Linked DNA regions of Homo sapiens. The protein of the gene in region 2 interacts with the protein of the main gene of each other region in a pairwise test. Each region holds a gene or a part of one and is shown on either strand. Other genes may lie near its edges.

Region 1 (3,754 bases), on a different chromosome or scaffold from region 2:
TGCTAGGATTACAGGCGTGCGCCACCACGCCTAGCTAATTTTTGTATTTTTAGTAGAGACGGGATTTCACCATGTTGGCTAGACTGGTCTTGAACTCCTGACCTCAGGTGATCTGCCCGCCTCGGCCCCCCAAAGTGTTGGGATGACAGGCGTGAGCCACCACGCCTGGCCTGGAGGTGTATTTAAAAAGCATTGACCCCTGCCTCTGTTAAGTGAAACACTTCCATTTCCCCTTGCCCTTCACCTCCGGAGCCCCCAGGCAGGCAAGGCTGGGGGAGTTCTTCCACCCCTTCTCCAGGCGCCCTGATTCGCTGACTGTGTGCCAGTGAGGGGCCAGGGTTCTTGGGAGCCCACCGTCTTAGCAGGAGCTGGCTGCTGTGTGCCCCTATTGGGTTGTGTCTCTACTCTCTGTATCTCTGTCTCTTTGTCCCTGTCTCTGATGCCTAGTCTCTGTGTTTCTTTGTTGCTCTAATCTCTCCAGCATCCCCTCTTCTCTCCCATGTCTGTGTTGGAGTCTCCCCAAGGGTCCAGGGTGGGGGTTGGGAGTCCCCAAGGCCTGGGATGACCCCTCTTCCCTCCTGCACCCCGTATCAGTACCCAGATGGCGTCTTCTATGACCTGGACAGCTGCAAGCATTCCAGCTACCCTGATTCAGAGGGGGCTCCTGGTGAGTGACCCCAGCCCTGTGCCCTTCCTGCCTTGGGGCCCATTTCACAGATAGGGGAGCTGAGGCCCAGGGGAGGTCATTTCCTAGCACAACAGGATAAAGGTGGCCCGGGCCTATAGCCCTCCTCCCCTTTCCTCTCCTACCCATCCGCTCCTCCATGCAAATCCTGGGGTCAGAGATTTGCACAGCCTACAATGGCCTCTCTGTGCTGGGGGCTTCGACTGCGAGGAGGCCTCCGTGAGACATCCCAGCTTCTGACTCAGTGCCCTTCCCCCAGACTCCCTGTGGGACTGGACTGTGGCCCCACCTGTCCCAGCCACCCCCTATGAAGCCTTCGACCCGGCAGCAGCCGCTTTTAGCCACCCCCAGGCTGCCCAGCTCTGCTACGAACCCCCCACCTACAGCCCTGCAGGGAACCTCGAACTGGCCCCCAGCCTGGAGGCCCCGGGGCCTGGCCTCCCTGCATACCCCACGGAGAACTTCGCTAGCCAGGTGAGTGGTAAGGGGACAGTTAAAATCAAGCCCAAACCAGGTGTGGTGGTGCACGCCTGTAATCCCAGCTGCTTGAGAGGCTGAGGTGGGAGGAGGATTGCTTGAGCCCAGAAGGTCGAGGCAATCCACTGCACTCCAGTCTGGGCAACAGAGCAAGACCCTGTCTCAAAAAAAAAAAAAAAAAAGAAAAAGAAAAGAAAACTCAAGCTCAGTCATTTGGTTGAGGTTTGCTGGGTGCCGGGCACTGCATTGAGACTGCACATAGTAAGCCCTGCAGCGGCCTCCCAGGTTACGTTCCGTTGTTGCCCCTCTGAACAAGTGAGTCAAGAGAGGTAGTGACAGGAAGCCAGGGACAGGGCAGACTCGCATTACCTGTGTTGGGCCGGCTTTGAGGAGGTACCTCAGGTGTCCCCTGGCCACAGCGTGGTGATCTGAACAAAGGCCAAAATCTAGGCTGTCAACAAAGAGGGAGACCAGAGCCAGGAGGGCCACCGCCTTGGCCTGAGAGGAGGAAGTGGAGGGAGACAAGGGGTCCCTGGACATGCAGGTGACCCTGACCTTCCGCAGACCCTGGTTCCCCCGGCATATGCCCCGTACCCCAGCCCTGTGCTATCAGAGGAGGAAGACTTACCGTTGGACAGCCCTGCCCTGGAGGTCTCGGACAGCGAGTCGGATGAGGCCCTCGTGGCTGGCCCCGAGGGGAAGGGATCCGAGGCAGGTATGCGGGAGTGGCTGGGGTGGGGGAGATGCCAGCTGGAGATGGTGGGGGGGCTGAGAGCACCATGGCTTCCTGGGCCTCTACATATACTCCAGCACTCTGGGCAGCTCCCAGATCCGCACCACCTGCTGGCTGTGTGACCTTGGGTAAGTGCCTCTACCTCTCTGTGCCCAGGTTTCCTGTCTGTGCGATGGGGATGGAGGTGATAGTGTCTACCCTCCTGAGGTCGTTGGGGGGACTAAATGGGATAGTAAGTGTAAATGGGACAGCAGTGCCAGGCACAGAGTGAGCACTTCAATAAGTCAACCTCTTCACCATCATTCCCGACACCACAGCAACAGAAATGATAATGCTATCAACCCCCAACGGTTCAACCCTTGCCCCCTGCCCGTGTGCCCAACATCCTTTATGCTCAACCCCAAGAAAGCTGAGATCGTTCCTTCCTTTCTGTGTCTGGGCCTCGGTTTCTCGTCTGTAAAGTGGGCATCACTGTCATCCTCCCCATCTCACGGGGTTATGATGGAGATTCAATGAGCTCATAACTGTAAAGTGCCTTGTGAAGCACCTGGCACTACATGCTCCACGGTGCATTGTAAAAATCAACACACAGGCTGGGTGTGGTGGCTCACGCCTGTAATCCCAGCACTTTGGGAGGCTGAGGCGGTCAGATCAACTGAGGTCAGGAGTTCGAGACCAGCCTGGCCAACATGGCAAAACCCCGTCTCTACTAAAAACACAAAAATTAGGCTGGGCATGGTGGCTCATGCCTTTAATCCCAGCACTTTGAGAGGCTGAGGAGGATGGATCACGAGGTCAAGAGATCGAGACCATCCTGGCCAACATGGTGAAACCTCACATTTACTAAAAATACAAAAATTAGCTAGGCGTGGTGGTGTGCACCTGTAGTCCCAGCTACTCGGGAGGCTGAGGCAGAAGAATCGCTTGAACCCAGGAGGCAGAGGTTGCAGTAAGCCGAGATCTTGCCACTGCAGTCCAGCCTGGCGACAGAGTAAGACTCTGTCTTAAAAAAAAAGAAAAAAGAAAGAAAAAAAAATTAATGGGGCATGGTGGTACATGCCTGTAATCCCAGCTACTCAGGAGGCTGAGGCAGGAGAGTTGCTGGAACCCAGGAGGCAAAGGTTGCAGTGAGCTGAGATTGCACCACTGGACTCCAGCCTGGGTGACAGAGCAAGACTCCGTCTCAAAAACAAACAAACAAAACCACAGCCTCATTTAAAAAATTTTAATTAATTAATTAATTTATTTTTTGAGACAGAGTCTCGCTCTGTTACCCAGGCTGGAGTGCAGTGGCACGATCTCGGCCCACTGCAACCTCCACCTTCTGGGTTCAAGCAATCCTCCTGCCTCAGCCTCCGCAGTAGCTGGGATCACAGGCACCCACACCATACCCAGCTATTTTTTGTATTTTTAGTAGAGATGGGGTTTCACCATCTGGCCAGGCTGGTCTCAAACTCCTGACCTCAGGTGATCCGCCCGTCTCGGCCTCACAAAGTGCTGGGATTACAGGCGTGAGCCACTGTGCCCAGCCACACAGCCTCATTTGTGGCTGAGAGACTTCAGCTCAGAGAGGTTAATTAAGTCACCTATTTTAACTTAGGACATTTAAGATGGAGAGGATCTCTCCAATGACTAGGAAAGACACAAGATGGAAATAAAGATTTTATTTATTTTTATTCATTTATTTGAGACGGTCTCCATCTGTCACCCAGGCTGAAGCGCAGTGGCGCAATCTCGGCTCACTACTGCCTCAAACTCCTGGGCTCAATCGATCCTCCTGCCTCAGCCTCCTGAGTAGCTAGGACCACAGGCGTACACCACCACACCTGACTAATTTTTAAAATTTTTGTAGAGGTGAG
Region 2 (3,754 bases):
TTTTATTAGCTTCAGATACTCTTACTGACTTGACCTAAGCATGTTTGGACATATTTTAAGCATATTTGACCCCTGCACAGTTCTGTTACTATTTCATAAACCTAACCTTAAACAACCAGCTATTGACATACTTCTTGGATTAGATTCACAGATTTGCAGGGGGTAGTTTTGATAATGGGAAATTATGAGAGCTTCAAGTTGATTTTTAAAAAATTTTAACAGTGTTTGTTGGGCCAGGTCCCTAAGACTATCTTTCAAGCCAGGTTTATTATATCTAGTTCATTGTATTTAAGTATTTAAAGTATACTAAATTACCCTCACCATCTTCCAAGTTATTTCAAAACTTTATTCTCCTTGACATGAAATTATTATTCCAGGAATAATAATATCCTTTTGAGTTTATGTGCACACAAAAGGTTTTTCATTACAGGAATATAAATGTTACTCATATACATATTCAGAAGCATTTTTTATATGATTGCAATGTATGCTGAATCATTGGTTATCTGCATTTTTTTTTTTTTTTTTTTTGAGACGGAGTCTCATTCTGTCGCCCAGGCTGGAGTGCAATGGCACGATCTCGGCTCACTGCAACCTCCGCCTCCCGAGTTCAAGCATTCTCCTGCCTCAGCCTCCTGAGTAGCTGAGATTACAGGCGTGAGCCACCACGCCTGGCCGGTTATCTACACTTTTAAGAGCTATTTCTACTGGCCGGGCGCTGTGGCTCATGCCTGTAATCCCGGTACTTTGGGAAGCCGAGGGGGGCGGATCACGCGGTCAAGAGATCCAGACCATCCTGGCCAACATGGTGAAACCCCGTCTCTACTAAAAATACAAAAATTAGCTGGGTGTGGTGGTGCGCGCCTGTAATCCCAGCTACTCAGGAGGCTGAGGCAGGAAAATCGCTTGACCCTGGGAAGCGGAGGTTGCAGTGAGCTGAGATCCCGCCACTGCACTCTAGCCTGGCGGCAGAGCGAGATTCCGTCTCAAAAAAGGAGCTGTTTCTTCTGGGAGGGTGTAGGAAATTTATCTAGTCAATGCATACAAAGTCTTAAGCACTGAATATAAAGTTTGATTTATTGTTTTTCTTATCGAAATTATATTAGACTTCCATGTAAGTCTTCGAATTTTGAATTTTGTTGATATTCTTTCCCTAAGCAGGAAAGACAGGATGGGGAAAGCTAAGTGATTGGCTGAACAAAGACCACCTAAACACTCTGTGTCCAAGAAGAGGTTGAAAAGTCTTCAGGTGGCCAGAGTTGCAGACCTATCTGGTTCTGATCCCAAGTTCTGTCTCAAGAATATCTAAGGACTTAACCAGAAGCAACTTCTTCACCTTTTTTTCAATGGGGGTAAAAATATGAGTACTACCTTACCAGCTGTAAAGCATCTATTATTTACAAATTGTATGTTCATTGGCAAATAACTTAATCTCTCAACTCAGTTTCTTCCTCTGTAACATAGGGACAAAAACAGTGTCACCTTTAAGGTTCTTTTGAAGAGTTAAATATGATAATGCATGTGAACTATTTAGCACAGTGCCTGGCAAAAAGTAGACACCCAGTACAATTCATATTTATTATACAAATGTTAATTTTTTTCTGACTTAGTGAAATAGTGTAAGGCCAGGTGCACATTGTCCCTTTGTTTACATATATGAAGAGAACTGTTAAAAGTCTTTAAGTGATCTGTAATTAATTATTTATGCCCAATTAATTTGGGCTTTTAAATATATAAAACATGGCCATCCTAGGGGTAAAATAGGGACATTTCAGTAAGACACGCCTATATAGAGATAGTGGTGTTGAACTGCCAAGCATATGCCTTGAATTGTGACAATTCAAGGCCACATCATCCTCACTTTTTTGCCTGAGTTCCACTCCGTCCATGATTCCACAGACCTGCCAACTTTTGGGTGCAGTTTATGCTTAGCGGCTTTTGTTAGACCTGAACTCTCAATCTTCACCATGTCAGAGACATGCATTAGACAAATTCCATCTTAGTTGGTGAACTGTTGGAAATGTAAGAACTCCAGAGAAACCATAGTCAGAAGTGCTACTCAATGGAGCAGACAAGGCTTCATCATTTTCTGCTGCTGCTTCTAAAAAGAAGCTGAAATTATTTTATTCTAGAAAATTTGGGATTTAATAATGTAAGAGACTATGTCCTGTCACAGTCATAGCAACCTACTGATTCTACTTTGGGAAAGAGCCCTCAGTGCTTGAAATTTTCATCTAAGAATGGAGAACCATAGGTGCTATTTCAGCAGGGTCTCTTTTCCTGTACAATTATAAAAAGAAAAGTGCCGGGTTCCTGTGGTTCTATACTCAATAATCTTGCTTCTGCTGAGATATATGGTTGATGCCAAGTTTAAGCTGGGAGACAATTTTTAGTCACTACATACCCCAAAATGGAAGTTTTAATATAATGCAGTGCCCAGACTTGGGCACTACAGGTAGCTCCACTATAATCAGTACCAAGGGCGCCACTCTAATCATCCTCTGAAACAAAGCACCCTTAAATATGGCACTGTGGGCTGAAGAACTCCACCTTGTGAACAGGAAAGGATTTTTTGTTTTTCTATAAATCGCCACCTTGTGTATTACTTGGAAGAATGGATTCTGAGATTAATGTTATACTGTGTAAAGCTAACTTGAAAACAGAAAATAATACTCTAAGCCTAGACGTGCATAAATAACATTACCTGGAGATTGACAGACGGGGTGAAAGCTTTTATTGTGGTTTCTCAGAAATATATAAAGCAGTAGTTTTCCTTTAACTCTTCTGTCTTTAATGCCATCTGCAAAGATATATCATCCATACCTTTAACCTCTTTCCTAGGGATTTGGACCCATTTGGCAAATAGCTTCAAGTACTCATAGTTAATTTTCTGGCTGGTTTTCCTAAGTTAACCTGATTTTACAAATATTCCATTTGTAGGACCAGTTTACATCTACTTTCCCAAGCTAGCCAACTTCAATTCCCTTTTAGTCATCTACTTCCTACTAACAGCTGTAACTAGGATGAGTCAAAATCAATTGCCTATGCTCACCAGATCCCTGATAAATTCCCATGAAGCCACCTGAAAGGTGGTAAAAGCAAGGTAAAACGTGGTGAAAGCAAGGTAAAGAAGGTAGATTTCACAATTTTGTTTTTTAAAAAGGGGAATCTTCCCTGAATTCTTTGAGGTACTAAGTACGTGGTTTAATGCATATTTTCATTCTTGTTAGCAGTTTAAAAATAATGTTTCAGAGACTGTATTCACGATTGCTAAAAAGCATTTTTTCTACTAATCATTGTTCATGGGACTTAACAATGGAAGATAACTGGGAAAGCAGTAAATATAGGAAACCACTAATAGTGTCTCCTTCTTCCTACCCTGACCCTCTCTTTGGCTTCAGAAAGTGACGAGGAAAATGTATCTTTCACAAAGAAAAGTTATACCACAGAAGGTACTAAAAAGCAACAACTGCCTTTGGGGACAGGAAACTTACAGAGTGGGGATTATTATAGAGGGATAACATACCGAGTTTCTATTTCAATAAGAGGGAAATTGGTTTATATTCTGTTCACACTTGTTTCAAACCCTCTCCTCTAAAAGCAATGTGTTTTTGGAATTCAAGGAATGTACGTTCTTTCCCCAACCTTAACTGGGGGTCAGTCTTATGGCCACCATATTTGTCTACAATATAACTTTTAAAAAATATAATTTTTGCCCTCAAATACTCTCCTATCCAATGCAATGTAACTTTGA

The links. The genes of interacting proteins can lie anywhere in the genome.
Region 1: the proteins of E2F3 (region 2) and SPIB interact in a two-hybrid assay, tested with the Homo sapiens proteins (one study listed by BioGRID).

What each region holds. Positions count from the first base shown.
Region 1 is NC_000019.10:50,421,879-50,425,632, forward strand, and holds part of SPIB (transcription factor Spi-B), read left to right. Parts: intron 1-594; coding exon 595-667; intron 668-944; coding exon 945-1,159; intron 1,160-1,726; coding exon 1,727-1,877; intron 1,878-3,754. UniProt on the Homo sapiens protein: Sequence specific transcriptional activator which binds to the PU-box, a purine-rich DNA sequence (5'-GAGGAA-3') that can act as a lymphoid-specific enhancer.
Region 2 is NC_000006.12:20,404,834-20,408,587, forward strand, and holds part of E2F3 (transcription factor E2F3), read left to right. Parts: intron 1-3,754.